4 linked regions of the Homo sapiens genome follow. The protein of the gene in region 1 purifies or fractionates together with the protein of each later gene. This does not show direct contact. Each region holds a gene or a part of one and is shown in the gene's direction. Other genes may lie near its edges. The genes, in order: PACC1, BZW2, ARFGEF3 and TTYH3.

What was found.
Region 2: the proteins of PACC1 (region 1) and BZW2 purify together in Homo sapiens (co-immunoprecipitation; 3 studies listed by BioGRID and IntAct, with this or other methods). This does not show direct contact.
Region 3: the proteins of PACC1 (region 1) and ARFGEF3 purify together in Homo sapiens (co-immunoprecipitation; 3 studies listed by BioGRID and IntAct, with this or other methods). This does not show direct contact.
Region 4: the proteins of PACC1 (region 1) and TTYH3 purify together in Homo sapiens (co-immunoprecipitation; 3 studies listed by BioGRID and IntAct, with this or other methods). This does not show direct contact.

What each region holds. Positions count from the first base shown.
Region 1 is NC_000001.11:212,383,721-212,391,147, reverse strand, and holds part of PACC1 (proton-activated chloride channel), read left to right. Parts: intron 1-4,047; coding exon 4,048-4,257; intron 4,258-5,722; coding exon 5,723-5,874; intron 5,875-7,427. UniProt on the Homo sapiens protein: Chloride channel gated by pH that facilitates the entry of chloride ions into cells upon exposure to extracellular acidic pH. Involved in acidosis-induced cell death by mediating chloride influx and subsequent cell swelling.
Region 2 is NC_000007.14:16,642,316-16,649,600, forward strand, and holds the start of BZW2 (eIF5-mimic protein 1), read left to right. Parts: upstream 1-3,865; 5' UTR 3,866-3,973; exon of another isoform or gene 3,974-3,989; intron 3,990-7,285. Other genes in the region: ANKMY2 (ankyrin repeat and MYND domain-containing protein 2), read right to left, coding at 3,192-3,258. UniProt on the Homo sapiens protein: Translation initiation regulator which represses non-AUG initiated translation and repeat-associated non-AUG (RAN) initiated translation by acting as a competitive inhibitor of eukaryotic translation initiation factor 5 (EIF5) function.
Region 3 is NC_000006.12:138,157,677-138,165,176, forward strand, and holds the start of ARFGEF3 (brefeldin A-inhibited guanine nucleotide-exchange protein 3), read left to right. Parts: upstream 1-4,262; 5' UTR 4,263-4,410; coding exon 4,411-4,495; intron 4,496-7,500. UniProt on the Homo sapiens protein: Participates in the regulation of systemic glucose homeostasis, where it negatively regulates insulin granule biogenesis in pancreatic islet beta cells. Also regulates glucagon granule production in pancreatic alpha cells.
Region 4 is NC_000007.14:2,627,455-2,635,183, forward strand, and holds the start of TTYH3 (protein tweety homolog 3), read left to right. Parts: upstream 1-4,531; 5' UTR 4,532-4,701; coding exon 4,702-4,824; intron 4,825-7,729. UniProt on the Homo sapiens protein: Calcium-independent, swelling-dependent volume-regulated anion channel (VRAC-swell) which plays a pivotal role in the process of regulatory volume decrease (RVD) in the brain through the efflux of anions like chloride and organic osmolytes like glutamate.

The sequences.
Region 1 (7,427 bases):
TTGAGGAGGCAGTCTGTCTGTTCTCAGATCTCAAACCCTGTGCTAGGAGAACCACTACTCTCTTCAAAGCTGTCAGACAGGGACATTTAAATCTACAGAGGTTTCTGCTGCCTTTTGTTCGGCTATGCCCTGCCCCCAGAGGTGGAGCCTACAGAGGCAGGCAGGCCTCCTTGAGCTGCGGTGGGCTCCACCCAGTTCGAGCTTCCCGGCCGCTTTGTTTACCTACTCAAGCCTCAGCCATGGCAGGTGCCCCTCCCCCAGCCTCACTGCCGCCTTGCAGTTGGATCTCAGACTGCTGTGCTAGCAATGAGCGAGGCTCCGTGGGTGTGGGACCCTCTGAGCCAGGCGCGGGATATAATCTCCTGGTGTGCCATTTGCTAAGACCATTGGAAAAGCACGGTATTAGGGTGGGAGTGGCCCGATTTTCCAGGTGCCATCTGTCACAGCTTTGCTTGGCTATGAAAGGGAATTCCCTGACCCTTTCTGCTTCCCGGGTGAGGCGATGCCTCACCCTGCTTCAGCTCACACTCGGTGCGCTGCACCCACTGTCCTGCACCCACTGTATGACAAGCCCCAGTGATACGAACCCAGTACCTCAGTTGGAAATGCAGAAATCACCCATCTTCTGCATCTCTCTCGCTGGGAGCTGTAGACTGGAGCTGTTCCTATTCAGCCATCTTAGAACCCAATATCAATAGTCTTTTTTTTTTTTTTTTTTCTTTTTGAGATGGAGTTTTGCTCTTGTTTCCTAGGCTGGAGTGCAATGGCGTGATCTCAACTCACTGCAACCTCCGCCTCCCGGGTTCAAGCGATTCTCCTGCCTCAGCCTCCTGAGTAGCTGGGATTATAGGCATGCACCACCACGCCCAGCTCATTTTTGTATTTTTAGTAGAGACGGGGTTTCACCACATTGGCCAGGATGGTTTCGATCTCTTGACCTTGTGATCCGCCTGCCTCAGCCTCCCAAAGTGCTGGGATTACAGGGGTGAACCACCACACCCCCGGCCTCAGATATTTTTTGTGACCCATTTTCTGTCTCCAGTTACATGTCACTACACTGCTAGATACTGTAACAATTTTCCGGGCTCCATTTGGTTTTTTTTTTCCTTCAATATTTTCTTCAAATTGGATAGTTTCTGTTGATTTAACTTTGAGTTCACAAACTCTTTCTCTGCCATCTTTTGCTATTAAGCCTATACAGTGAACTTTTTATTTCATTTATTTCTTGTCAGATCTGGAATTTCCATCTGTTTTTTTAAATTTTATGAAACATTTTTACAGTGGTTAGATACACGTAATGTAAAACTCATCATCTTACTCATTAAAATGTAGAGTTCAGTGATATTAAGCACTTTCATATTGCTGTGCAACCATCACCACCATCCATCTCCACAATGCTTTTTCATCCTGCAAAACTGAAATTCTATATATTTGGCCATTGTTATTAGTTTCTGTTTCTCTATTGATCTTGTCTTTATTCCTTATTCAGATATTTTCCTTTAAGTGCTGTAAATTTTCTCTCTGCTAAATTGCAACACTGGGTCATCTTGGTGTTGGTTTCTATAGATTGCTTTTTTCTTGAGTACAGGTCACATTTTCTTGTTTCTTAGCATGTCTAGTGATTTTTGATTGAACACTGGACATTATGAATGATATAGAGATTCTGGATTCTGTTATGATCTTCAGAAGGGTATTTTTTTTTCTTGGCATATTGTTAATATGGCAAGATTTAAGCTCTAAACTCCTATCTCCCCTGCATTAGCCGTAGTTGAAATCTCCATGCAGTTCTTTCAATTTCCAGTTGTTACTTTTTGCTGGCCCCCCCTGGGTTCTCCAGCCAAGGATCTGAACATATATTTAGTTGCAGATTTGGGAGTTTCACCCCCTGTGTGGCTCCCTCCCTTTCATGGTTTTGTCTTAACTTTCTGGCTGCTCTTCCAGCCCTGAACTTTGTCCCTGTCACTCTGAACCATGCCTTATAGGGATTGGCATGTATTCTTAGGCAAAAAGCTACAGATGTATAAATCTCACCAAGTACAGTTCTTCTCTTTCAAGGGTAGCCTCTCTTTCAATTTCTACCTGCTTTTGATCATTCTCCCAGTGCCTTCAAATAATTTAAAATATGTTGTCCAAAGTTTATAATTGTTTTCTGTGGAAGGGTGATGTGACACTGCTACTCTGTCACTGTTGGAAGCCAGATGCCAAGCAGATACCTTTTGGGGCTTACGTTCAGATGCTTCCCTTGTTCTCAGCCTTGTGCTCAGCTGGGCTGTGGAGGAAATAGGACTTCTTCTCAGGGAGCTCCATTTTCAGCTGAGGAGCAGAGAGGGCACAGGGAGCCCTGTGGGAGTATCTTAGTCAGCTCAGACTGCTGTAACAAAATGCCACAGTTGAGTGGCATAAACAACAGAAATTTATTTCTCACAGTTCTGGAAGCGAGAATCCAATATCAAGGTGCCAGCAGGATTGAATTCTGGTGAGGCCTTTCTCCTTGGCTTGCAGATGGCTGCCTTCTCATTGTGTCCTCACATGGCCTTTTTTCCTGTGTGCATGTGCTCCTAGTGTCTCCTCCTCTTATAAGGATTCTGGTCCTATTGGATCAGGCCTCATCCTTATGGCCACATTTAACCTTAATTATATCCTTGAAGTCCCTGTCTCTAAATATACTCACATTGAGGGTTAGGGCTTCAACCTGAATTTGAGGGTGGGGGATACAGTTTCGTCCATAACAGAGATTAATCTAGCTTCTAGCCTCAGGATTTTGTGAGGGAGGTAGGGGAGACAGAGTTGTGTTGTACCAATAGCATCAGGACGTGTTCAATCAGTCACCATGTAAATGCAGAATGTTCCAGGCATAGCATGAAGGGCTAAGGATTCAGTTAGGGATAAGACTGGCCCCATCCCTGCCCTCATGGAACTCACAGCCTAGGAGGATAAAAGATGTATAGACATGACATTGCAGAGTGATGAAGTAGGGGACGTACAGGGCTCCCTGGGAACACTGAGGAAGAGGTGCCCAAATAAAGGTTAGGGGTCAGGAGAGGCTTCCTCAAGAAAATGTCTTTCTTTCTTTTTTCTTTTTTTTTTTTTTTTGAGATGGAGTTTCGCTCTTGTTGCCCAGGCTGGAGTGCAATGGAGTAATCTCGGCTCACTGCAACCTCCGCCTCCTGGGTTCAAGCAATTCTCCTGCCTCAGCCTCTTGAGTAGCTGGGATTACAGGCATGCGCCACCACGCCCAGCTAATTTTGTATTTTTAGTAGAGACAGGGGTTTCACCATGTTGGTCAGGCTGGTCTCGAACTCCCGACCTCAGGTGATCCTCCTGCCTCGGCCTCCCAAAGTGCTGGGATTACAGGCTTGAGCCACTGCGCCTGGCCAAGAAAATGTCTTTCTAAATTAAAATGCTTCCATGGAAGGATGGCGTGACCAAGCTACTCTGTCACTGTTGGAAGCCAGATGCCAAGCAAAAAGCTTTCGGGGCTTAGGATGAGTGAAGCATCAGCTGTGGAAGAAAAGAAAATCAAGCAGAGGGAATGGTAAGTGTGAGGGAATCCCGGGTTGAGAAGGGCACTCCAGAAGAACAGAAAGTCGATGAGTAGAGGTGGAGCTAGAGCTGGGAGAACTGGGGAAGTGGAGCAGTGAGGGATAAGGCCAGAGAGGTAGGTTGGGGCCAGCTCACTTGTTGGATTGTAACTGCCTATCCCTCTAGAGAGTAAACTCCTTTTTTCTGTTCTTTTTGTTTGTTTTTTGCTTTTTCTTTTAACATTTTTATCGTTTTTTATCTTTTATCTTTTTTCTTTTGAGAGTAAACTCCTTAAAGACAATGAATAAGTCTCCTTCAGCTTGGTGTCCTCTACCTGGCAGAGAAGCTGTGTAGTAAATGTTTACAGGTGCCCTTTGTTATGATTTGTGGGGTGAGGTGGAAAGGTTGGGCGTGCAGGTGACTTCACCTCCTTGGTGAGGCAGGCAAGGGCCTGGAGGTTGCTGGCCATCTCTGTCTGTACCTTGTCCCTGTGCCCTGGGTCACATGGTGTTTTGTTGTTGTCAGGCCTGGACAGCGAGTCCGCCTCCAGCAGCATCCGCTTCAGCAAGGCCTGCCTGAAGAACGTCTTCTCGGTCCTACTCATCTTCATCTACCTGCTGCTCATGGCTGTGGCCGTCTTCCTGGTCTACCGGACCATCACAGACTTTCGTGAGAAACTCAAGCACCCTGTCATGTCTGTGTCTTACAAGGAAGTGGATCGCTATGATGCCCCAGGTAGAGCCTGCCCCTGGGCCAGGCATCAGGGCCCCAGATCTAGGGTGTCAGCTGGCAGATACTCCCTGAGCTGCCGTTGTATTTGTGGTACTACGGGCAGGGCAGAGGAGTCCAACCAAGCATAGTCTAGGTATAGAGTCTATGCCCAAGGAGCTGCTGTTGGGAGTGTGTTACGTGCTGAGGACAGAAATGGACAGAGCCTGGAGCAGCTACTGCAGGCTACTAGAGGGGTCAGGGAAAGCTTGGCAGAGAGGTAGGATTTGAGATGGGCCTCGAAAAGCACATAGATGGGAAGAGAGTGTCTTTGGGATGGGGATCAGCAGAGCGAAGGGGTGTCTAGGGAGGCAGAGGGCTTCTCTGGAGAGGATGAGACTAACTTGGCTGGGGCCAGAGGGCAGGGATGAGGAGAAGCAGGAGTCAAGGCTGGACTGTGGGGTGGGGAGGATGGCAGGGGAGGCGAGGCCATTCAACCCTGCCTGGAGAGGGACTCCCAGGCCACACTGGGTATACCTGTCTCACTGGGGTGTCTGGTCCCTGAGTGGGGAGTCCACTCTGCTATAGAGCAAGCTATCTGCTCTGGGCTGCAGGGCTGGCACTGGATGTTCTAGGGGCTGTAGAGTAAATGAGGAGGCATGAGCTGTGTGACTTGGGCCCTGTCCACCCAGTGTGTGCCACCTGTTCTGCCCACAGATGCCCCTGAGTAACCTGTGGGAGGGCCTGCTCACATGGCAGAGCCAGAGTCCGGGTGCCCTCTCTCTGGGGCTTCCTGCCAGCCTCCAGCAGAGTCAGGTGTGCTGGTCATGGCTCCTCTGCCCATCTCTTCCTGTCTTGTGTTTGTCCCTCTTCTCTGTGTGTCTGCTTGAGTCTTCTTTATCTGTACGTTTTACTTTCTCTGTCTGGTGTCTTAGTGTCTCTGAAGTCTGTCTGTCTCTGATGCCATGTGCTGCTGTCTTAGCATTGCTGCCCTTGAGGCTGGACAGCTACTGTCAGTAGAGGTGCCTGGGCTGGGAAGAGGGAGGGACTCTTGGGATGTGACTTGCACACTTGGGGCTCCCAGTCTAAGAGACAAAATGAGTTCTGAGGAGTTCCACAGTTTAGAGCCTCCCAGTGATTCTGCAGGTGGGTGTTGGCCCAGAGGGGTGGCACAGGGGCTGAGTCAAGAGACACTCCTTCGGAGGGTGTGGAGCGGGGCTCTGAGGTGGAGTGGGTTTTGATGTGGGCATCAGGGCGGCTGGATCCCAGGTTGGCCAGGGGCTTACTGAGGAGGGGCTTGTGCCCTCTGCTACAGCGGGGCTTTCTGAGGCCAGGGGATGTGGCTCCTCACCCTCTGAAACCCTTTTCTTCTCCCTTCCCTGCAGTCCTCCAGGGAGTCCAGAACGTAGGTTGTTGGTAGGTGTGAGATGATTTCAGGGATGTGGTCAGGAGTGTGATTTCTGACACTTGCTTTTCCTGTTTGTGCCCCCAGGTATTGCCTTGTACCCCGGTCAGGCCCAGTTGCTCAGCTGTAAGCACCATTACGAGGTCATTCCTCCTCTGACAAGCCCTGGCCAGCCGGGTGACATGAATTGCACCACCCAGAGGATCAACTACACGGACCCCTTCTCCAATCAGACTGTGGTAATTCCTGTCTGCCTGAGCTGGGTCTGGGCAGCTGCTCTGTTAGCCCCGCAACCCAAGGCCCCAAGTTTCCTTTTTCCTAGGAGTCCTTCTTCCACTCACTCAGTGTGGGGCCTTAGTCCCCAAGGAGACATGCGGCTGTGCCATGTGGACACTTGGCTGTGGTTGGCTCACTTGCATTCAGGGAGGACAGTGAGGCCTCCAGCCTTTGCTGAGTAATGCTCAGGGATTCCTGACAGTGCGGTGAGACCCTGTCCCCAATGGAAGAATGGCAGGGCTAAAGGGTGGGGCTGGTGCGATATAGCGAAGTGGGTCCCATACCTGACCACTTGACAGAATTGCCAGGATACTTTTTGAAAATATGAATTTCTAGGTTCCATGTGAAGCCAACTGAATTATAATTCCTTAGGTGGGGCCTGAGAATCCATAGTTTGAAATTAATACGCCAGCGTAAAGGAGCGTCGGTCTGGGGACAAGGACTCCTGGGCCCTGGGCTGGCCATGCTGTCGTGCACAACACAGCACGGCTGGGAAGGATGACTGAGGGATGGGGTTAGGAGCGCCCTGGAGGAGTGGCACTGCACAGGGTTTCAAAGACAGGGTAGGCGTTTTGTATTGATTTACATCTCATCTTTTTCATTTCATATTCTTGCTTCAGAAAGCATTGAAAGGGGCTACAATAGTTTTCCAGATGAAATTGGGAAGGAAAGGTTTTCTAGGCAGAGGAAATTGCACCATGACCTAAAGGGAAGAGACGACATGTTGTACTTGTGCCTCTGGGCACAATTGCAGTTGGTGGGGAAATGTTTCATAGGGTCAGGAGCCCTGGAAGACTGATGGGTGATGAAGCTGTGGACAGAGTAATGGCCAGATGAGAAAAGAACATGCATCGTGCTGTAGAGCCACACTTGCTCCCTTGGGTAACAGGGAACTGTTAGTGGGTTTTAAGATGAAAGAATAACACTAATTTTTTTTTTGTTAGTATGTGAACGCTAGGCCCCCTCCTAAAATCCTGCTAAAATGATTCTCTAAGGAATGAGATAGAACAGACTAGAACATCAATAATAGCTTTGCACGTGAAGAAAGGATATCACCAGTGGACCAGACATTTTGAGGAACTGGTATAAAGCATAAAAAACAGCTTGGGCCAGATTGGTGGAGCAAACAAATTAGAGCAAATCCCTAACCCAAAACAGATGAAGGAGAGACCTGTTGTAGAGGTACAAGCTTTCCTTCCAAACCCCCAGCTTGGAATCAGCACCGTTAGAGAGCAGGGTAGTCATTACTGGACTGCCTGTTGGCTGGGCCAGACACACCCTATACCCTCCCCAGGTATGCAGAGCCGCTGGGGATGGTTGCCTCTGGGTAAAAGACCCTGGAACCATTCTCTACAGAAGCGAAGGGAAGATGATTCTTTGTGTAGGCATAGGAAACAGAGCAGACTTCTACAATGGAAAAGGAGAGAGAACTAAAGGAAAGGACTCTTCCCAGAGTAAAACACACTGGAAAACTCAGTGTGCTTCCACAGAGCATACTTAGCTTTCCCATGCAAGG
Region 2 (7,285 bases), on another chromosome or scaffold:
GTCATATAAGCCAGTTAAACACAGTTCAGTGATTTCAATTTCCTCTTACATACTGTTAAATGAATGCTGTCATTAACTATGATTTAAATGGGTATGTTGGAAACAGATTTTCATTTTCATCTGGAACTTCTTGGCATTCTAATAAATAAAAAGCCCCACTTAGAGTCTGTCTTTCTGGAGAGCAGTGGCTGGCAGATGGGAATCACTTAAATATTTGCCGAGTTTATTTCAGATTGACCAAGATGCCAGGCTAGACTTTGCTGAAAAGTTGTTAGTTCAAAGTACTAGAACTTATTGTCTCATCTAGAGTTTTTCAAAGTTGAAAAACGTATGAAAGAAAAAAAAAAAAACTCACTTCACCCACTTTAAAAAAAATGCCTCTTTTTGGCACAAATATAAACTTTGCTTATGGCCTTTCTTCAACTATAAAATAAAAATTTACTTTAAATTTAATGCACACAGAACTACAAAATCAGTAACATTTAAAACTGAGTTAACTTGACAGATGTTGTTTTGCTAGAACTAAATGACCTCTCAAAGTGAATATTGTATGGACTGCTATGGTACTGTTTCATGTTTTGTTTAGTTTGTTTTTAGGTACAGCCTGTTTATTACCTATGGGCCCTGTGATACCTCTGCTCTGCCACTTTCTGCCACTTACCTGTTTGACACTAAGTTTCCTAACTTCCCAGTTCCTCAGTTGCCTTGCCTATAAAGTGAAGATTACTATATTTATCACAAACACAAGCAGTATTTCGAATGCTTTAACTATACTAACTACTTTCATCCCCATAACAACGTTGTGAGGTGGGTATTATTATTATTCCTATTTTTCACACAGAGGACTTGAGGCTCAGGAAAAGTCACTTGCCCAAAGGCCACATCACCAGTAAATGAGTTAGAATTTCAAACCAGACCTGCATGGTTAACCACTATCCCATGCTGTCTCTCATACTGTCATAGCTTAAAATTAATTCCTAGCTCATCCAAATTAAATGCATTAATATATGTAAAGTACTTAAAATTATGTGTGGCTTGCAATAACAGTCAATAAACGTTGGCTATGGTTGTTTTTCTCATATCTCCCATTACTTTTCTTTATGAGTGCAAGTGATGTCCCACAGACCTTCATTTGACAAGAATGCATCACATACTAGGTCCACATCAGTTCTTTTCTCATTGGCATGGTCCAATGAAAGCGATGAAAGCATCAGTGCACTCATGCAACTTGATGCACCGTGTGAGCCCAGAAATATCACAGCACTAACCAGAATAAATGCACATTAATTCAGGTTTATATAATCTTCAAAATAAATACTGATGGACACCTGAGAATGTATCCAAGGAATCCCTTCTCCCCTCTCAAAGACTCAATTTATAAAACTGCTCACTATTTTTCACTTTTAAGAGATCACATGATGGGCCAGGCCCAGTGGCTCATGCCTGTAATCCCAGCACTTAGGGAGGCCGAGGCAGGAGGATCACTTGAGCCCAGGAGTTCGAGAGCAGCCTGGGCAACATAGGGAGACCCCCACCACCCCATCTCTACAAAAAAAAAAAAAAAATCTTTCTAAAGTAGCCGGGCATGGTGGCTCGCACCTGTAGTCCCAGCCACTAGGGAGGTGGAGGCTGCAGAGAGCTGCAACTCCAGCCTGGGTGAAGAGTGAGATCCTGTCTCAAACAAACGAGAGAGAGAGAGAAAGAGACAGCGAGAGCGAGAGAGAGAGAGGACATGTACTAGCTCTGTCCTGCCTAAAAGAATTTTTGTCCCTGGTGGATTGTGAATTGATCCTTTGTCTCCTTTTTGCCCAGCACAGTACCTGGCACACAGCTAGAACTTGCATGTTTGCTTAATTGAATCCCAGAGCCATCAAAGGCAGGGAGAAATTACCTAGAGACAGGAAGAACTGAAAGACTGAAATGCCAAATAGGTCAGCAAGAACCATGCAGTACAACAATCTAAACTCTAACCCAAATCCCCAAATTCCAGGCAAAGAACACATCATTGATAGATATAGCTGTGACTGACTTAGAATAGTTGAGATCAGATCGGGTGGGCTCAGCTCATCAGCACCTGTTGAGTTCAAACCGGAATTTTTTCTCCTTCGCATGTGGAGTTTCCTTGTCGCTATGAAGAATAAATCTGCCTTATTCTCTAGGATTCCACATTTCAGCCTGGCTACTAAGTAAATAAAACTGGAAACTGGGAAGCCTTATGCTGCAATGACTGGCATCTCTGCCATTCGAGGACAAACATGGCTATATTATTATTGAGTTTAAAATCACCACATTAATTGCCCGGAGTCGCACGCATCACCATCCCTGCACCGTGAGGGTGCAGAAGAAGCATGCAGTCACGCTGATGTCACCTGCCAGGTAACGGGACTCGGCAGGGAACTCCTCTGGGACGTCCACTCGGGGACTCCGGGGAAATATGGCTTCTGGCTCGTCCTCGGGGCTCCCCGCTGGGACTCAGCACTGCGGAAGTGGGGCACGCCTTGGGGGAGTGGACAAGAAAGCGCGAAGGAGCGCGATTAGAAGGTCTCATCTGTGCAACGTGGGCCGAGGGGTGGGTGTGGAGGCCTCGCCAATTTCCTTGTCTCTCTAGGGTTCCTGAGGCTGTCGGGGCTTCTGGAAGCCAGGGAGGCCCTGGATACGGAAGTCTCAATGCAGCAAATTACAGACCTAGTTCTGTACCCTTATGAAGAACCCCTCTCCCTAAGGGCGCCCTCCACTCCCAAGCGGGGGCGGGGATCGGCAAAGGATCCAGATCATTCGGCCTGCGGAAGTCTAAAGGGTCATTTAGACACCCGCCTAAGAACCTGAAACTACCAGGACTGACCGCGGTCAAAATCCCTCGGGAGCAGTGAAGAATTCACACACTGGGGTCCACACCCCGGGAAGCTCGCATTAACCTAAGGCGGGGCGTGGAAATCCGTACGTTTCCAAAAGCGGATTTAGAGGCCGAGCCTCTGTAACTACCCCTCTTGTCCCAGCACTGCTTCTGCCTCCCCACCTCTCCGCCCCTGCAACCTTTCCCAGACCAAAGGGAGAAACGCTCTTTCCCGGTTCCAGGCTGCAAACCTTGCAGAACCGCAGCCAAAGGTCACCCAGGCCAGGAGCGCCCCCCGGGCTCCGCCACGCCCCCCGGCCAGGCTGGCCGCGGCCGCGTCGCAGCCCAGCACCCGTACCTTTCCCGATGACTTCCAGTAGCTCCTTCTCCTCCTGGGTCAGCTCGCCTTTCTTTATGTGAACCATTGCTCCCGCCAGCTTGAAGGTTATTCCCTTTCTTAGGGAGTATTAAAAAAGAAACGATGCGTCTGTATTGGGAACGCCAGCCGCAATGAGGCAACTTGAGACCAAGACACTGAGTAGCCAACCGCGGAAACGCTTCGCTTCTCTCCTCCCTCCCGCGGGCTGGCGGACAGCGGGCGAGCTCGGGCGAGCCAGGCGGACGGTCTCCGCAGGCCCTGCGGCGGTCACCGCCTGCCGCCTGTCATTGGCCCTGCCGAGGAGGAGGAGCCGCAGGAGGCGGTAGCGAGAGATCGCCATTGGAGCAACCTGGGAGGACAAAACCAAATGCAGAAAGCTGGAGGGGGGAATTAAATTCCTCCTACACGTTCCGCTCCCCTATCCTGTCCGGTTCAAATATTTCGCCACATGTAATATTGAAAATTCTACAGCTGGCAGTTATGTGCTCAGCGACGGCTTTCTGGGGCATGCAGAGGCCCCAGGTTGTCGCCGTACCCCCACCATTCCCCCGGGAGTGGCGCAGTCTGGGCGGGGGCGGTCTAGGAGACGGGGGCGGTACGGGAGGCGGGGCTGCGCCGGGTTCCGTGTGTCTATGTCAATGTGTCTGTCCTTCACTCCTCCATTGTCTGCCGCCACTGCTGCTGCTGCTGCTGCTGCCGCTGCTGCTGCACGAATCGCCGCAGCCCCCAGCCTTGCGCGTCGTCGCTACCTCCTCGGACAGGTGAGAAGCAGCCCAGGTGAGGCAAGGGGCGCCGTGAGGGTTGCGAGAGTAGCGACTGCCGCCCCGCCGGGGTTTCCATCGGGCAGGAGCTGGCGGGGAGGAAGCATGTGCCTCCTGGGGCGGCTTCCTGCCTCGCGGTGGAGAAGCCCCCGCTCCACCTCATCATCACGGCGCGTACGGGGTATCAGTGCCCTGGGATGAAGACCTCCGACTCGCAACGTTTGGCCGCCTCGGGAGACCCTGGGACCGCGGGCGGGCGGGCGGGGGCCAGCCACGCGGTGGGAAGTGGCGGGTGCACATGGTCTCGTGCGTGGCACCGCCAGATGCGGCTCCCGGGGAGGCTGGGGCCGGGGCTCTGGGCTAGGTAGGGGTCGCAAGGACAGCGCCCCATTACTAGCGAGTCAGTGAGAACAGACTCGGGAGAAGGTAGTTTTTACGCTGGTGATCCTCGCCCTCCCCACTACTTGTCATCTCTTTGGCCTCTGTGGAAGCTGTAGAAGAAAACCTGATCGCCCAATGTTGCTTGTTAAAGATGTTTGGAAACAATTTACACTTGCACTAATACTTCGTTTATGAGAGACAGCCTGTGGGAGGGGGAAGGAAGGGCTTCTTTGCTCTGCTAGAGTTCTCGGTTCTCTTTGTAACTCAGATCTTGAGATTTATGGAAATAGGGAGTGGAGGGTGGGGAGGTTGGAGAGGGCGGAGATTAAATTGGTGTTGCTGCCTATATATAGCCTTAGATTAGCCTCTTAATCCAACCTTCATTCAACTGTAATATGTAGCCTGGAGCTTCGACCATAGGTAGATGGGGGTAAATACAAGTGTGTATTTCAGAATAAGATTTGCTTGCTAAAATGCGGGAATCAGTCATTTCTCCAGGGTGCAGATTTATATTTACATCATCAATGAAAGTTTCTTTGGAAATTAGTGTTTATGTTTTACTGTTGTTTCCCTACAGAGTAGTATTGATGTTTCTCTCAATATGTGTGTCAAAGAGACGTGTATGTGTCAAAGAGAAATATTTGAGTAATTATGTAGGTGGTTTTTGTTAAGCATCCCCAGGACCACTGTTTCTTCTCATAGCGCCATACGAAAAGCGAAATGCATTTTCCTCTGGCCTTAGGCATTTATTTTGCGTGAAGCTTTCACTAACATCTGAAATCTCCTGGAATATGTTTATCATTATTTCCTGCCTTTAGCAAAAATCTTTCCTAAACTCCAGCTGTTTTTCCCCCCTAAAGCTTCAGCATTAAAGACTGGGACAGATCTGAGCCAGAACATCTTACATGAAAATGGTTTGAAATTATTCATCTCAGTGTATAACAAAGATACTTTTGTTGGATGATGCTTTAATAATGATGTGGCTGTTCAAGCAAGTAGTAAGGCTCCTGAGAGTGACCAATCTTTTGTAATGCTGTTAGTTCAGAGTTACAATTGATTTATAACATAGTATCATGCGGAAGAAACCCACAAACCTAAAAAAACAGTTGAGTGGTAACCTCCTGGAACATGTGATTTAGCATCTTACCAGCAGATGCATACACATAATTGGGTACTTCATTGCTAGTATTTCCATCTCTTGTGCCAAATCTGGGCCATGGTTACTTGAAGGTCACACCTGTTTGTCTCACTGGGGTTGTCAGTTCCTCGAGGATAGCAGCTTACTATCTATTTTCTTGATGCCTTATGACACTTGGTTGGTATTTAGTGCTCTCTGAATACATGACCAGTGAATTTAGAGACAATAACGTTGAAAGAGAATCTAACATCTACCTAGAAATGCAAATAAATCATGTTCAGTTTACATTTCTAGAAACAGATTCATAATGGGTACTGTTCATTAGATGGATTGATTACATTAGTAGTTTTGTATGGTGTAAATATTTAATGTAGGGATAAGATTAGATAATGAGCATATTAAAACAGATTCACATCAAAGAAGTTTTATTGATAATAAGATAGCTACTTCATATTGAGTATTTAGTCTGTGCTAGATATTCTACCAGATGCTTTGCATAGAATTATTCTAGTGTTATGACAACCCAGGAATGAGCCAATATTATACCCACTTTGCAAATAAGAGGACAGAAAGTAAGGGAAATAATTTGCCCACAATCCCATATTAGGAAGTGTCAAGTCAGAATTGGAATAATGATTTCTGAAATGTTTGAAATGTTGTATGTGTCCTCTCATATCTACCACTCTAGAGCTATTGCAATGCATCTTAAGTAGCCTGCTTCTCTCTCACCTGTCTCCATCTAGCTAATTCAGGGAACTACCAGTTCAATAAACATTGAGCACCCATCATTCTTTGAATGGCTCTCTGCTGGCCACAGAATAGAGGGCTGGGTCTGGCCTGGAAGGTTCCAATCCATCCATGGTCTCAGCAGGCATTTCCAGTCATCTGGGCCCTCCCACACACTGGGCTCTAAGGTCACCACTCTGCTTGTTCCCCAACCTGCCGGTAATTTCCACCCCTTTGTTCCTGCTTTTCTCCTCCTCTGAATGATTTCCCTTCCCTTTTCACTGAATCTCCTCTCCAGATCTGATGAACTATTCAACTTTCCAGACACAATTTAAACAAAACCTCTTTTCTTCAGCTTTTGTGTTCATCTCTCCCTCTCTATCCAGTAAGGGAAATATACATGCTAGTAAATACATTTATTCATGTCTCTTGGCAAGGGTTATAAGTAAAATCTTTGTACATGGAGGATATTGATATGCAACATGGCTACTGGTATCATTGCTGGCAGCCTTTAATTCTCTCTTCTTATGGATTCTAGCGACCCCTCTTTTACCGCCCCCCTAAATTGACATCATTGCTTCTTCATCTGAATCTCCATGAAAATACCTAAAACAAGCACTTTCTCATCGCATTCTATTATAGTTATTATTAATCTGTTTGGTCCCTTCTCATTCTACAGTATACATTAACTAGGTCAAATTTATCTTTGTTTCTCAGGTTTAACCCAGTGTCTTGCACCTAGTGTATGCTCAGTACAAGCTGAGTTGAATTCAGTTTGATTTCTAAGTTATTTTAGGTGGATTTGTTTTCCTACTTGACTAATCCTTCCTGGCAATGTGAGGTGAGGTGGCACTAAGCACGCACAATCATAACCAGAGGCAGAAAGTCTTTAAATGTTTTGGATCTCAAGCTTCTTGACATTCTGATGAATGCTATCAACCAAGAAAAATTGTTCTTGTGCACATGTTACAAATTTGGCATGCCATTCTTAGATTTCCCCATTAAAGACCCTGATTTCCAGCTCTCTACATTAGGAGAATGCTGCCTTTTTGTTGCATTTTTGAGTA
Region 3 (7,500 bases), on another chromosome or scaffold:
GTGCACAATTTTGTAACACATAAAGAGAAAATTAATGAAGACATTTTGAATAGAAAAATGATATTAGTTATATTACGTCTCTGTTATAAACTTTAATAATTTCAAAAAGAGAAATTTGAAATATTGAGGAAAAAATTGATAAAAGATCTGTTTTCCAAAATCCTGAATCCATATTAAAGTTGATACTCAAAGAAGAAAGCTAATCTCTAATACTTTAATACATTGAAGAATGATTATAAGTTTATAGCCATTTTAGATTAAGATTAAAGAAGACTTTCCATTGCTAAACAGAGTTCACTGTTGTTATTAATAGCATTCACAGCAACTTATTTGTGTGAGCCAGAATTTTTAAGCAACAAAACTAAAAACATTGGAAAGAAATAGGCATCACAGAGCAAACCACTGTGATTGTCCTCATGCCCGCAACCCAGAATGAATTTAGGAACAGGCAAGTATGCCTGCTGCAGTGAATGAAATCATGCTTAGTAGTAACTATTCTAGTTAACAGTATGTACTGTTTTATACCTAAAACTGTTGTTTCAGTTTTTTAACATATCTATACATGTATGTAAACACTGGATGATAATGTAAAGCATATTTTCTACTGTGAGTTATAGAAAAAAAGTAGAAAGGTGTTTACTTTCCTTCATAGCCATCCACTGGGTTGTTTATCCGTGTGATTTCACCAGCTCTTAATCCACTGCAACCAGGCTGCAGTCATCATTTCTCCCGGGTCTGGCTTCCACGGGATCCTAACTCTCTCACATTCATTACATCATTTTCTGTGTTTATCTTTGTCCTTTCTCTGGATGTTGACCTTGTTGCCTGGATACTACTTTTATTTCATTTTTGTGCCACTTTTTTTTTTAGAATAACACTTCTGATTATAAAAGTAAAAATATTTAATGAAAAATAAACTCACCTATAAGCCCATCAAAGATAATCACTTAATATTTTGTATGTACTTTTGATAGATATGTATGTACATATATGCATGTATTTTTGAACTTATATATACATCTACATCAAATATTTAAATAAAATTGGAATCATGTAGTATACAAAAGTACATAGCATTTTACAATTTGCTTACTTAAGTATATAGTATAAGCCACTTTTCTTTTTTTTTTTCTTTCTCTGTCTTTTTTTTTTTTTTTTTTTTTTTTTTTTTTTTTTTGAGACAGTGTCTTGCTCTGTCGCCCAGGCTGGAGCGCAGTGGCGAGATCTCAGCTCACTGCAACCTCTGCCTCAGGGTTCAAGCACTTCTTGTGCCTCAGCCTCTTGAGTAGCTGGGATTACAGGCATGTGCCACCACACCCGGCTAATTTTTGTATTTTTAGTAGAGGCAGGGGGGTTCTCACCATGTTGGCCAGGCTGGTCTCCAACTCCTGACCTCAGGCGATCCACCTGCCTTGGCATCTCAAAGTGCTGGGATTACAGGTGTGAGCCACTGCCCCCGACACCACTTTTCATATTATTCAATATTTCTCTCCCACATTATTCTTTTTAAATTAAAAACAATTTTTTTTTTTAGTAGAGATGAGGTCTTGCCATGTTGCCCAGGCTGCTCTCAAACTCCTCGGCTGAACCAATCTGCCTGCCTCAGCCTCCGAAAGTGCTGGGATTACAGGCATGAGCCAACATGCCTAGTCCCCCACATTATTCTCAAAGGCTATATAATATGATGCTTTATGAATATATCATGGGTTATCTATCCATATCCTTGTTGCATATTTAGTTTTCTCTTTTTTTAGAATTGAAAGACACACTGAAATGCTTGTAGAAAGATCCTTATCCATTTCCATAATCACTTTCTTAGGATGAATTCCCAGAAGTGGAATTGTTAGGTCAAAGCTATACCTATGCCACATACACATCCAGGCTCCCTCCCTCCAGGAATGTAGTACCAAGTTACACTCTGACCAGCACCCAAGACATGAGAGGACCTTGTTGTTCAGCTCCTTCAATAACATTTAAAAAATCTCTCAGTCAATTTGATTAATAGAAAATAGCATCTTATTTAAAAGTTTGTTCTCTTTATTAGGCACTTGAACATTTTTTATAAGTTTATGGGGTCATATGTATTCTCTCCTCTGTAAACTGACTTTATATATATTGGCTTTTTTAAAAAAGAAGGAGCATTTGTTTTTTAATTCTTTGTTAAAGCTTTTTTTTTTTAACAAAGCTATTCAAACTTTATATGTCTGACATTAATATAAACATTTTCCTAGTTTGCAGCTTAAACGAAATTGTTTTTAATTGTAAAACTAGTAAATACTTTAAAATAGATTCAAAAATATAAATCCACATATAATTAAGATTTAGAGGTATCATCTTTTCTTCCTTCAATCCATCCCTCAGAGTATCATTTGCTTTTTAATTTTGTATGAAACTTTTGGCATAAAGGTCTTAAATATTCAAATAGTCAAATCTATTGACCTTTTTTCCTTCAGTTTCTGCCTTAGTTTGTTAGAAATAATCTTAATGCATTAAGATAAGTATATTCACTTATGCTTTCTTCTAAACTTTTCATCATTTAATTCTTAAATTTAATTTTTAATACATTTGTAATTTATTTTGCTACACGATATAAAGTTGTGATCTATATATTTTTCCAAATAGTTAACAATTTTCTTTAACCCAAGTACATTATCTGCTGCGGCGTTTTTACTTTTTTTTTTTTAAACCTTTCTTTAAATGATGGCTTCACTGGGCGTGAGGGTAGCGGTAGAAGCATCCTTGGGGGCTGGGACTTTGTAGGTTTTGCCTCCTCAGTACCAAGAGCGCCGAAGGAGTAGTCTGACATCCCCATGTGTTGGACACCCTCCAATGGCAGTCCCTCCCCTGGCTGACCCCCTACACCTCGGATTTCGGACTGCTCCTCTCAGCCTCCTCCCTGGGCCCTTGCTCCTGTACCCATGATTTGAGAATTAGGGGGGCCGTCACTCCCTCTCTTGTGCAACCTTTGTCAAACTCGAGGCATCAACAACTCCTATATTTACCACCCTTCAAATACTGGCATCCCTCCCAGAGCTCTATCCTGAGTTCCTGTCCATAAAAAAAATCTACAAGTATCTCATTATCATTTCAATCTGAACATGTTCAAAACTGAACTCATATATCCCCCCTAATCCAAACCCTTTTTATCTTCTCTTCTTTAAAGAATGGGGCCACCATCCTCCCAATTTCCTAAACAAGTAACCTGGAAGCCATCCCATATACACCGTCTCTCCCCTATTGTGTCATTAAATCCTATTGTTTCTACCCTTCAATATCTCTTGACATACTTTCCTTTATTCCCCTTCTACCCACCCTTGGCCTAATTGGTTTCTAGATTCCTGCAGAACCTTTGTTCTCCCAGCTGCCAGTCTGCCCCTCTGCAGTCCATCATCCTCACTTCCACCACAGGAACATTTTCAAAGAAAAAGGAAACACGGGGTGCCCTGTCACACTGCCTTCCCCACCGCCCGCGTGAGTCTCCTGGGGCTCCCCCTTTTCACCCCAATGAGAAGCCCTCTGCTGCGGCGGCCCTTGTGCACCACATTTTTCACAGGGCAGCAATTCAGCGCAAGAGAGGATGGGAAGGGGAGGAGATAGGGGTTTTTAGAAGGGGCTTTGGATTCAGGACGTGTTTGGAGTCTAACTCTTGTTGGTCTGGGAAGTAACCCAGCCTCTCTGGGCCTGGTTTCCTTGGGCATATCAAGCTCTACCCCAGCCCCACCGCAGCCCACCGCCCGCCGCGTGTTGAAAGCTTGACTGGAGTTTCCCTGCAGGCAGGGGCACAGTGTGTGCAACGCTGCATCGCCCGAGCCTGGCACAGGGAGTGGCCCAAAAAAGCTGTTAGTGACTGAACGCAAGAATTTTCCGGTTAGCAGACGACGGGATGCAGCGGGCGCGGCGCCTGCACCACGCTGGGGGTCCCGGTGTCCGGGCTGGGCCGCTCCGACTCCGCCCGCGGCCACCGTCGGCTCAGGGGGTGCGAAGACCGCGGCGAGGCCCCTCCCCGCCTGCCTCCCGCCGCCCGCCGCGGACCAGGCGCTCCCTCCCGGCGGCTGGCGAGCCAGCTCCGGACATCCGTCCCCACCTTTCCGCTAAGCGCGGCGCCCGCGGGGCCTGCCTCGGCGGTCAGGTCAGCGGCCTCCAGCCTCACTCTCCGGCCCCAGCCCGCAGCCGCCGCCGAGCGGAGCGCACCTGACCCAGGCGGGCGGGGCGGGGCGGCGGGCGGGGCGCGGGGCTGACGTGGCCCGCGGCATGGAGCGGGCGTGATTCATCAGCATCCGCGCCGGGGCGGCATGGGGGCGCGCGCGGCGGCCGCCTAGGCGCCCAGGGCCAGGCAGCGGCGGCTTCCCCGGCCCGGCTCGCCCGCGCTTCTCTCCCTGTGGGCGGCGGCCCGGCGCCTGGAAGGTCAAGATGGAAGAAATCCTGAGGAAGCTGCAGAAGGAGGCGTCCGGGAGCAAGTACAAAGCCATCAAGGAGAGCTGCACCTGGGCCCTGGGTAAGCGTCCGGCACCTGCTCGCCGCGGCGGGAGGGCCGCGCGGCCGGGGCTGAACCCGCGCCTCCGCGCGTGGGGCTTTCGCGGAGCGTCGGTCATGGGTGCCGTTCTGGCGATTGCGAGAGTCGCCTCGGGAAATTGATGTGGGATTTGAGAGTCTTGGCTCGGGCGTGGACATCAGCCGCCTCCCCTCCGGTCTCTTTCACTCTCCGAAACCTTCCTCGGGAACCGCTGTCCTCCCTGCCTGGCGGCCCCCTTCTCCTGGTCCCGGCGCTGGGGACGATGCTTCCCCATCGCCGAGTTAGGCAGGACCCGGAGCCGGTGCGAATCCTGGGGCCTGACAGCGAAGCGCCTCTGGGGAAAAGGGAAGTTAAACCAACAACCCCGATGTCGAATCCTTGGCGAGTGGAACCAGGAAGGAAAGGCTTGTTTAATTTGATTTTCCTGATAGAGGTCAGCTTGCTTAGTGTTAGCTTTCCTGGTTATTGCACATGAAAAATAACATACGGGCGGGGATCATGTTACCTCTGCAATTCTGTTGTGGTCTGCCCTTCAGACAGGTGGGATTTTAGGGCTGTGAGCTGTGCTAGCGTTGAAGTAAGTTCCAGGGAGCAAATTTGTGTTTCTCATCAGACTCAGGTTGCAGAACTCAGCAGCGGAAAAAAACGGAAAGACATTTCAGTTAGGCGGGGTTTGGGCAATCAAAATGGTCAGGATGGTAATGCAAATAGATCAGAAGCATACTTTGGGTGATGGTGATGCTTTTTAGAAAGGAAAGGCCAAGAAGAAGCCAGCGCAGCTAGCTCTATGGGCTCCTCTCTCTGCCTTGCTGGAGCCTGATGTGATGCCTCAGTTGCCACTCAATTGAAAAATGAAATTGACTCCCTTTCCCTTGCAACCAAGAACCATCACTGTCTGTCATGACACTGTGTGTGCTTTGATGCAGCCTGAGATAGAGAAGAGCCTTTAGCAGGTTTTCCACTAAATGTAAAATTTTGAGAGTGGTTTAGGTGACTCTTAATATGTAGATGGTCTTAATTCACATATGTTTGGGTGTGTGTACAGGTAATTATAGCAGCATCTTTTTTTAAACCTGTGCCTATCATCACAAAATTGTCTAGAATATTGTCTAGGAAGTTTGTCTTGTAGGTAGAACCAGCACTTGACCATTCTAGCTTACTGTTAAAGAAAAATGGACCAGAAATCTGAGAGAACAGCAAGGCTCTTAAAGCCACAGTACTATTTTTGCCGTTGCCATTGTCATTCAGCAGCGTGATTCGAAGCTAGATTCCAAAATGCCTCTAATGAAGGGTCACAGATGGCTGGGTAACATGATAAAGCAGGGCCCAATTGTGCTTTAAACATGCCATTCCTAGTATTCGTTATTATTTTGCTGCAAATTAAGCAGATTTAGATAAACAGGGAGGAGGAGATTAATCTAGTATTTTAATAAGTTTAAATACTGACATCAACATCTTATTAAGTGAAACCACAACGTTGCTGAGTTTAGGTCCTTTAAAGCCACTGGGGAGGCTGAGCATTGAGGCAGGTAAATTTTTCGAGTCAAATCTGAAAGAAACCAGCCTGAGTGGATGTACTTCCTTTCCCAGTGATTGTTCTGTCATTAGCAAGACAAGACAGAAGTGCATGAAATAGTTAAATAATAGTGCAGGGCATTCATTGTGCAGTTGGATTGGGCAAACCAGGAAAACAAGTCAAAGAAGGGAGGATAAATGTGTTGTCCATGGATTGGGGGAGAATTGGTGTGAGCTGGTGGGGCTTTTGAAGTAGATTTCACTTGAAGAATGGGGAAGCTATGGGTTCCTTCTTTCCGTCGCTTCTTTATTTAGGAAACATTTATTAAGACCTCCCTGGTAATGAGCAATGGGATATATGGATGAATAAAATGTTCCCTGTAAGGAATTTGTTAGAAGGGCATGCTGGAGACATGAACAAAGGCCTATAGGGATAGGTTTTCCTGTTGCCTTTCCCACTCCAGTCCATTTCCACTGCCCGTCACTGTTTAGATTACAAAACACCTGTCACTCTTCAACCCCCCAATTTATTTCTAGATTAATGTGTAAATTCCTCAGAATGCTCTTCAGAATCTAGCCCCAGCCTCTGTTCTTGTCACTCCCCAACCAAGATTCAACAATCTAGTGGCAGTCAGCTGCAGCACTTTGTTGAACATGCTGTGTGGCACACTTCTCTCTTTGCCTTTGCTCTTGCTAGTCCTTCTGTAGGGAATTCCCTTTTCAGACTTGGCAAGGTCCATCTTGTTTAGGAAACATTCCCTGAGCTCCTCAATAGGATAAGTTGTTTGTCTGGGTTCAGATCCTTGCCTTGATGACTCTCTTAGAGTACCTACTATTTTGGATAATAGTTGATTGTGTGCACAGGTAGGCTCTTACGGGCAGTGTAATTGACAAATATGTTGGGTGCAAGAGACAAAAAAGCTAGTTTAAGCTGAGCTATACAAAACGGGATTTATTTACTCCTTTAACTAAAATACCCCTTACAAGAATAGCTGTGATTTAGGAATTAGACACTGTTTCAGGGATCTTGTCCTGCTCTTTGTGGGTTGACTGACATGCTCTGCGTGGGTCTCCACAGTTTTGGGCTCATGAATCAACACATTTAGACCATCTCATGAAAAGAGGCAACAATAAACTTAGACCATCTCAGGAAAACACGTCTCATCCCCCACTTAGACCATCATGTGATGGGGAGGTCAACCGCTACTTAGGTCATCATGGGAAAGGGGGGTTACCTCTCACGTAGACCCTCATGAGAGAGGGGTCATCCCCCACTTAGACCCTCATAGGAGCAAGGGGCCATCCCCTACTTAGACCATCATGGGAGAGAGGGGTCATCCTCACTTAGACCCTCATGGGAGAGAGGAAGCATCCCCCACTGAGACCCTCCTAGGAGAGAGAGGTCATCCCCCTCTGAGACCCTCATGAGAGAGAGGGGGCATCCCCGTCTGAGACCCTCATGAGAGAGAGAG
Region 4 (7,729 bases), on another chromosome or scaffold:
GGGAGGAAAAGATGGAGGGAGGGAGGAAAAGATGGAGGGAAGGAAGGTGGAAGGGAGGGAAGGAGAGAGGGAGGGAGGAAACGAGGGAGGGAGGAGGAAGGAGAGAGGAAAGGAAGGTGGGGGGAGGGAGAAAGGAGAGAAAGGGAGGGAAGGCAGGAGGGAAGGAGAGAAGGGAGGGAGGACAGAAGGAGGGAGGGAGGGAAGAAGTGGGGAGGGAGGAAGGGCCCCTGGAACTAGGCTGAACCCTGGTTCCCTGACCAGCTTGTGATTCTCAAGGCCTCCCATGCAATGGCGGGGACCGGGCCTCAGTTGCTCCGTCTGTAGAGTGGGACTAAAGTCCAGCCTCCAGCCACAGTGGTTGCAGGACAGATGGGAAGAACCACACAGCTCTGGGCAGTGACTGTCGGGTCAAAGCAGGTGGGATGGTGGGCGGAGCTTCCTCCATGCCCTGGCCCACACTAGATCCTCTCTCTGGCCTTCTCTCCTTTACCCTTCCTGGCAGCTGGAGGGAGGGACCCACGGAGTTTCTCTTCAACACCCGGATCCCAAGCAGCATTGCACGGGGGTGAGGTAGGGACTCTGGCTGTGTTCTTCCAGAACCTTCACTGTGGGCCCCTTATTCTCTCCACCCTGGATCCCTTTTACCAAATTCTTCCTCCACAGGCCCCTTAGGAATAGATTTCATGGCCCAAACACACTGCAAATATTACTCAGTCATCAGTACCTTTTCATCCCATACCATCAGAGGCACAGGGCGCTGGCCACCAGGAAGCTCTGAGAAAGCCGGTGTGTTTGTTTCTGGATTTGCCGTGACAAAGCTCCACAAACTGAGTGGCTTCAAACACAGACATGCATTGTCTCACGGTTCTGGAGGCCAGAAGGCTGAGATTGAGGCGGGGCGCTCTGAGGGAGGGAGCGCCCCAGGCTTCTCTGCCAGCTTCTGGTGGCCCCTCGGCGTTCAGGGCTGTGGCGGCATCCCTGAGATTCTGCCTCCGTGTTCACACGGGTGCTTCCCTCTGTGTCTCTGTATCTCTGAGTCTGTGTCCAAATTTATCTTTTCTTATAAGGACACCATCTTTGCATTAGAGAACACTTTAACCCAGTATGACCTCATCTTCACTGGATTACATTTGCAAAGACTCTCATTTATTTATTATTTTTTTGAAATGGAGTTTCACTCTTGTTGCCCAGGCTGGGGTGCAATGGCGTGATCTCGGCTCACTGCAACCTCCGTCCCCCCGGGTTTAAGCTGTTCTCCTGCCTCAGCCTCCTGAGTAGCTAGGATTACAGGTGCATGGCACCACGCCCAGCTAATTTTGTAATCTTAGTAGAGACAGGGTTTCTCCATGTTGGTCAAAGTGGTCTGGAACTCCCAACCTCAGGTGATCCGCCCGCCTCAGCCTCCTAAAGTGTTGGGATTACAGGCATGAGCCTGTCACCCAGGCTGGAGTGCGGTGGCACGATCATAGCTCACTGCAGCCTAGATCTCCTAGGATCAAGTGATCCTCCCGCCTTAGCCTCCCAAGTAGCTGGAACTACTGTGGTGGCACAAGCCACCACACCCAGCTGATTAAATTTTTTTGTAGAGAAGGGTCTCACTATGTTGTCCAGGCTGGTCTCAAACTCATGGCCTCAAGCGGTCCTCCTGCCTTGGCCTCCCAAAGTGCTCGGATTTCAGGTATGAGCCACTGCTCCCGGCCCCTTTCTTCAAAGAAGGTGACGTTCACAGGTGCCAGGAGTTAGGACTTGAACATATCTTTTTGGGGAACATAATTCAATCCACTACACCTGAGTTATCATTTCTTTCTTTCTTTTTTTTTTTTTTTTTGAGATGGAGTTCGCTCTGTCACCCAGGCTGGAGTGCAATGGCGCAATCTCGGCTCACTGCACCCTCCACCTCCCGGGTTCAAGCGATTCTCCTGCCTCAGCCTCCCGAGTAGCTGGGATTACAGGCATGTGCCACCATGCCTGGCTAATTTTTGTATTTTTTTGTAGAGACGGGGTTTCACCATTTGCCCAGGCTGGTCTCGAACTCCTGACCTCAGGCGATCTCCCCTGCCTCGGTCTCCCAAAGTGTGGGGATTACAGGCGTGAGCCACTGTGCCTGACCCTAAGTTATCATCTCACATCATGTCTGCATCAGACTTTCTGGCTTTATCAAAAGGAAAGGTACAATTTTGCCAGGCTTCTGGAAACAGGGGAAGGAACTCCTGTACCCCCTGCCTGCATGTGTGTACCCTGGCAGGGCTGCCAGGCTGGTGTGGAGGGCACTGGAGTTGTGGTGGGGGGAAGCAGGAGGTCTGTTTGTGGCCATGGGAGCTGCTGCTAACAGCAGGAACCAGAAACGATCTCAGGCCATGAGGACAATTTCTGCAGCTGGCCAGGGACTGCCCTGTTCATCCCTGGAGTTATGCGACACAGAACTCTGAGGTCAGAGTCAGCCCAGGGCACGGGCCGTGCAGGCGATCCCCTGGCTGTGGAGATGAGGTCACAGGCTGGATGCTGGAGCAGTGTCAGGCTAGGAGTGGGCGTCCTGCCTAAGCCACCTGTTCACAGTGAGCAATCAGCTGGCGCCAAAGAAGAGGACTCACCTGGCCAGGTACCAGCCCACTCCAAGTAGGTAGCCTTGGTCTTAGGGGGTTGGGGGGGGCTTCATTCTGCCTGGAGCTCCCACCATCCTTGGCATTGGAGAGAGAGGAACCTGAGCCAGTATCCCCACCCCACCCCAAATTTCTGGCTCTTCGGCCTTTAGGGATGGAGAATGCGACCTCCCCCCTTCTGCCTGGCTGTTATTTCCCAGCTGGGTGGTGTCTCCAAGTTATCCAGCGGGTGGAAACCGCAGCTCAGCTAGTCCCTCTTGCCCGGTGCCCTATCACAGGAAAACAGGCGAGTCAGGGCAGTCAATGAGCCAAAGTCCAGGCCTCCTGGGAAGACACTGCCCGGAACCGTCCCTGCCTGCAAAGAGCTCTTCCTGCCAGGAACGGCCTGCCTGCCCACAGAGCTGGCCAAGTCGGGCACAGCAGATGGTGGAGCCCGGGTGTGGAAACCTGTTTCTCAGTACACAGGAGGTCCAGGAATAAGGCCCCAGGTGATGAAGCAGAGCCAGGATGCACCCACTGCCCTAGAGTGCGGAGGGAGGCGTGCACCTGGGCCCAAGCACGCACTATGTCCATCCTCCTGGCTCTGGCAGCTCCCATCTCCCCTTTAGCAAAGGAGGAGGCACAGGCATGGGGAGGCCCTGTTAGGAAATTTGGCTGTGTGGCTCCAAAGCCCATGATGGGCCCTCTCTGGCAGGTGCCTGAATTTTTAGGCCCCAGGACACCAGAACAGGGCACCGTCTTCATCTTAGGTCTTGACAAAAGACTCAACCTTCCCCAGAGGGAAGGCCGGATGGGGACTGAATCTACCTGCGGATCCACTTAACACTCGTACCTTTTTAAAAAAAATTTTTTTTATTTTTGAGATGGAGTCTCACTCTGTTGCCCAGGTTGGAGTGCAGTGGCGCAATCTCCACTCACCGCAACCTCCATCTCGCAGGTCCAAGCAATTCTCCTCCCTCAGCTTCCAGAGTAACTGGGATTACAGGCGCCCGCCACCACGCCTGGCTAATTTTTGTATTTTTAGTAGAGACGGGGTTTCACCATTTTGGCCAGGCTGGTCTCGAACTCCTGACCTCAGGTGATCCGCCTGCCTCGGCCTCCCAAAGTGCTGGGATTACAGGCATGAACCACCACCACGCCCTGCCAACACTCGTAGCTTTATCATCCCCTTTTACAGACAAGGACACCGATGCACAGAGTGGTTAAGTAACTTGCCCCAGATCACACAGCTCTAGGTGCCCCAGCCAGGCCCTGAATCCAGATCATGTCCATTGTACAGATAGGCCACTCGGTGCCTTGCTGGGCGCTGCGGGCTGTGGGCTGTTGTGTGTGCAATGGGGAGGCCAAGACCAGCCCAGCCCACCAGGCCGGACCCTCGAGTCAAATAAGAAACATGCAAAGATCCAAACGAAGAGCGAATTCATGGAATGAAGCGCAGCTGCATATGCAGCCAGGGTTCCAGCCCCCACGGCCACGTGGAAAGACTGGCTGGCCCGGGTCTTACAGCGCTGAGGGTCGGTCTTCCAGCGCCTTAGGGGCCAGGCGTCCCTCCAAGAAGGCGAGGAAGTAGGCGGAGCTTCTGCCGGCGGACTAATGACGGTACAGAGGCGGGGCCGAAGGGCGGGGACACGTGGAGGGGCGGGGCCATTGGGTAATGGGCGGGGATGCGAGTGGAGGGGCAAAACCATCAGGTAAAAGGACCAATAGAGGTTCAGGAGCGAGTGGGCGGGGCACGCTGTGGGGCGGGATCGGCGGGGGATAGACCAATGGTGGGTAAGAGGCGGGACAGAGGGCGGGGCGCGCGGGGGCTGGGCTGGCGGGAGGCGGGCCAATGGAGGCTCGGGGGCGGGGCCGGCGGGCGGACGGGCGGGGGTGCGGAGGGGGCGGCGGCGGCGGCGGCGAACAAAGAGGCGGCGGGCGCGGGCGGCCGAGCGGAGCCGAGCGCAGCCGAGCCGGGCCGAGCCGGGCCGGGCCGGGCCCAGGAGCGCGCGGATGATGCGGGCGGCCAGGCGGGGGTCGACGGGTCCCTGAAGCCCGCGCCCCGGGCCAGCAAGGGAGCCCCGCGCAGGCCGCGCGCATCCGGAGGCGGCCGGGCCCCGCCATGGCCGGGGTCAGCTACGCGGCGCCCTGGTGGGTGAGCCTCCTGCACCGGCTGCCCCACTTCGACCTGAGCTGGGAGGCCACTAGCAGCCAGTTCCGGCCCGAGGACACCGACTACCAGCAGGTGACATGGGCCTCTCGGGGTCGCGGGGTCAGGGACCCCAGGTCACGGCCCCCTCCTCTCCCAGGGTCACGGCCCCCATCCCCGAGGGCCTAAAGACCCCTCATCCCCCCCTCCAGGGTCACGGCCACCTCCTCCTCGCAGGTACCGGCCTCCTTCCTTCTCGAGGGTCCCTTCTGAGTCCTAGGACCCTTTCTTCCAGGGTCATGGCCTCCTCCTCAAAGGTCTAAATACCCTCCAACCCCCAGTGAGGGTCCACGGCCCCCCTCCCGATTCTGGCCTTCCCTTCTGGTGTCACTAAGGCCCCTGGGTTTCATGGAGCTGCCTCTCCCCACTCCGTGAGCCCCCTTGGCCAGTGGAGGGCCTCTCCACCATCACTGTTGGCGGCCTGGTGCTGTGTCCCAGCAGAGACCCCTCCCCAGATGACCCCCAGGCTCTGAGATCAGAGCGGGTGCCTGAGCACATTGGGTGCAGGCAGGCAGAGACTCCTCGCCCACTCACCCCCGACTGGGGAATCCCACTGCCAGGCTTCCAGTGGGTGAATGGCCTGGGCCGCCGCCAGCCCTCTGTGGCCGGTAATGACCCCCTGCTTGGCGGTCAGGCTGTGGGATGTACACAGGGTGCCGTGTGTGGCCGTGGGAGACCAGGCTGCCTGTAGCCCCCGGGGGAGGGAGGCCCGGCGGCCAGGAAGCACCGTGGGCCTCAGGCAGGGAGGCTGGAAGCGGCTGAGCCCAGGCAGACCTGGGGGGCGGCTGGGGGCCCTTTGCAGCCCTCTCCCAGGGGAGCCCTTAGCCTGGCATCATGCCAGGCCCCAGCACCACCCCCATCGCCAAGCTACTGTCATTTGAGTGCGGGGCAGGGGACCAAGCTGTGGGCATTTCCTTCCTGCCTAGAGATCCGGATTCCAGAAGCCCCGTGACCAGGGTCCCTGGTCACCCGGAGTTTCTCTCTGGACGGATCATGGCAGAGCCCCATGGTGGGGTGGGGATGGCTTTGCTTATCAAAATGGCTTGGGAATCCGGTATTCCGCGGGCAGCCTAGCACCTGGACTCTTCAGAACTGCGTTGTCTGTGGCCTCCCGCATCCAGAGGAGGGAGGCGGAAGTGGAGGAGCAGGGCACCTGGGAGCCCACTGCTCCCAGCCTCGCGCTCACTTGCACCCAGGCCCCCCAGCCGAGCCGATGACGTTTCCTAACAGATGAGGAAGGGGGCGAGGGATCGGCCCAGGCACGCCCAGACACAGCAGGGAGGAGGGAGGCGGAAGGATTGGTATAAAATCTCACGCCTGCGTTCTAGAAGCCCAGCCCTGGGGGACCGTTCAGTGTGGGGGCAATGCACATTCAGGAACTTCTGGAACTTATTCCATGCTGATGGCTTTGCCACTTGTCCCTGGAGGACTCTGTTGAAGCTGCAAGGAGGGTGTGCTTCACTTTGGAAAGTTCTCTGCCCTGAGGGTTTGGCCCATTTGTCAGTTCTTAAGCTCCGGGGCAGCCCTGGGGCGTGGGGGGCGGCTGTTTCCTGCTGCCCCTTGGGCTGCCACCTGCCCGAGCTGCCAGCCACAGTTGGACTTCCTTCCAGCCCTCCGGGGTGCCTGCATTCCCACATTCGAGACAGGCAGTGAGAGGGAGTGAGGGGCGATGATGTCTGCAGCCCACAAGAGCCTCCGGGCAGTAGCCAGGCCCCTCTGCTCAGCCTGACCTGCCTGGCCTCCAGCAGGGTGCTATGGCCCTGGGAGGCCCTGGCTTCTGCCCCCTTTCCTCCCCTGCCCTGCGCTCTGCTCTGCTGTGGGAGGGCTCTGACTCACTCTCTCTCCTGCCTCATCTCCACAGAGCAGAATTAGCCACTGAATAATTCACGATGTGGAAACCGGCCTGCCTCCATCCCCCGCCGCCTCCACTCCCGGCTCTTGGCGAGGGGCTGTGGCGTGAGCTGGTCCTGGCGTGCGTCCTGCCCCTGCCCTTCCAATACTGGTGCTTTTCGGCAACTGCTTGGTGTCTCTGAGCCTTCATTGCCTCATCCTGAATCTGGGCTGGCCGTGCCTCCTGTGTAGGGTCACCCCTGGGAGGCAAGGGCCAGGAGCCCCCTTCCTGGGAGAATGGGCAGTGGGTGGGCCTGGGCTGTGGCAGGCGCCCCTTCCTGCCTCCCCTGGTGAGGAGTTGCTGGCTGTAGTGGGGGGTGGACCCCTCACCCATCCTGACTGAGGGCTCCCTCTTAGCTGTCTCTGTGCTGCCCCAACCTGGGCTGTGCCCTGCTGGGGAGTGGGCATCTGCCCCGTGGTTATGGGGGCGGGGGGATGGAGGGGAGGTGGGGCCTGGGGTTGGGAGTTGGGGGTGTGGCACGGGGGACTGGCCTTTGTCCTTTGCTATTTCTGGCCCCCGTGGTCTGCTGTTGGGAACCCTGGTGAAACCCCCGGAGGGACCAGGGCCAGGTCCTGTTTCAAGGCCCTGCGTGGGACTGCCTGTCACTAGTCACTTTTCCCACAGCCCCAGGAGGTGGGGAGAGTTGTCCATTGTACAGATTAGCAAACTGAGGCTCCGAATCACATAGTGAGTAAGTGGTGGGGCCGCAGCCCTGCTGTAGGTCCCTCGTCCGGCCCCCCGAGGAGCCGGGGTCAGCCTGGAGTCGCAGGCTCCCCGGATTCCCCCACGGCTGCCTTGCCGCTGGGGGTGTGACCGTGGGATTAGAAGCTGATGGGGGCTGAGGGAGCTGTGAGAGGGCAGGGGGTGGAGGGGCATCTGGGGTCGGCTCTGTGCAGCTCCCCAGCCAGTGACTGTCGAGAGGGGCTCCCGTGCTGCCTGAGCATCTGAGTGAATGGGGGGCTGTTGTTCACAGGAGGGATTTGGAGGCCCACAGGAGGCCTGAGACTCCCTGGTGGCCCTGCAGCTGAGCTGGCAGGGCTGGGCCTGAGG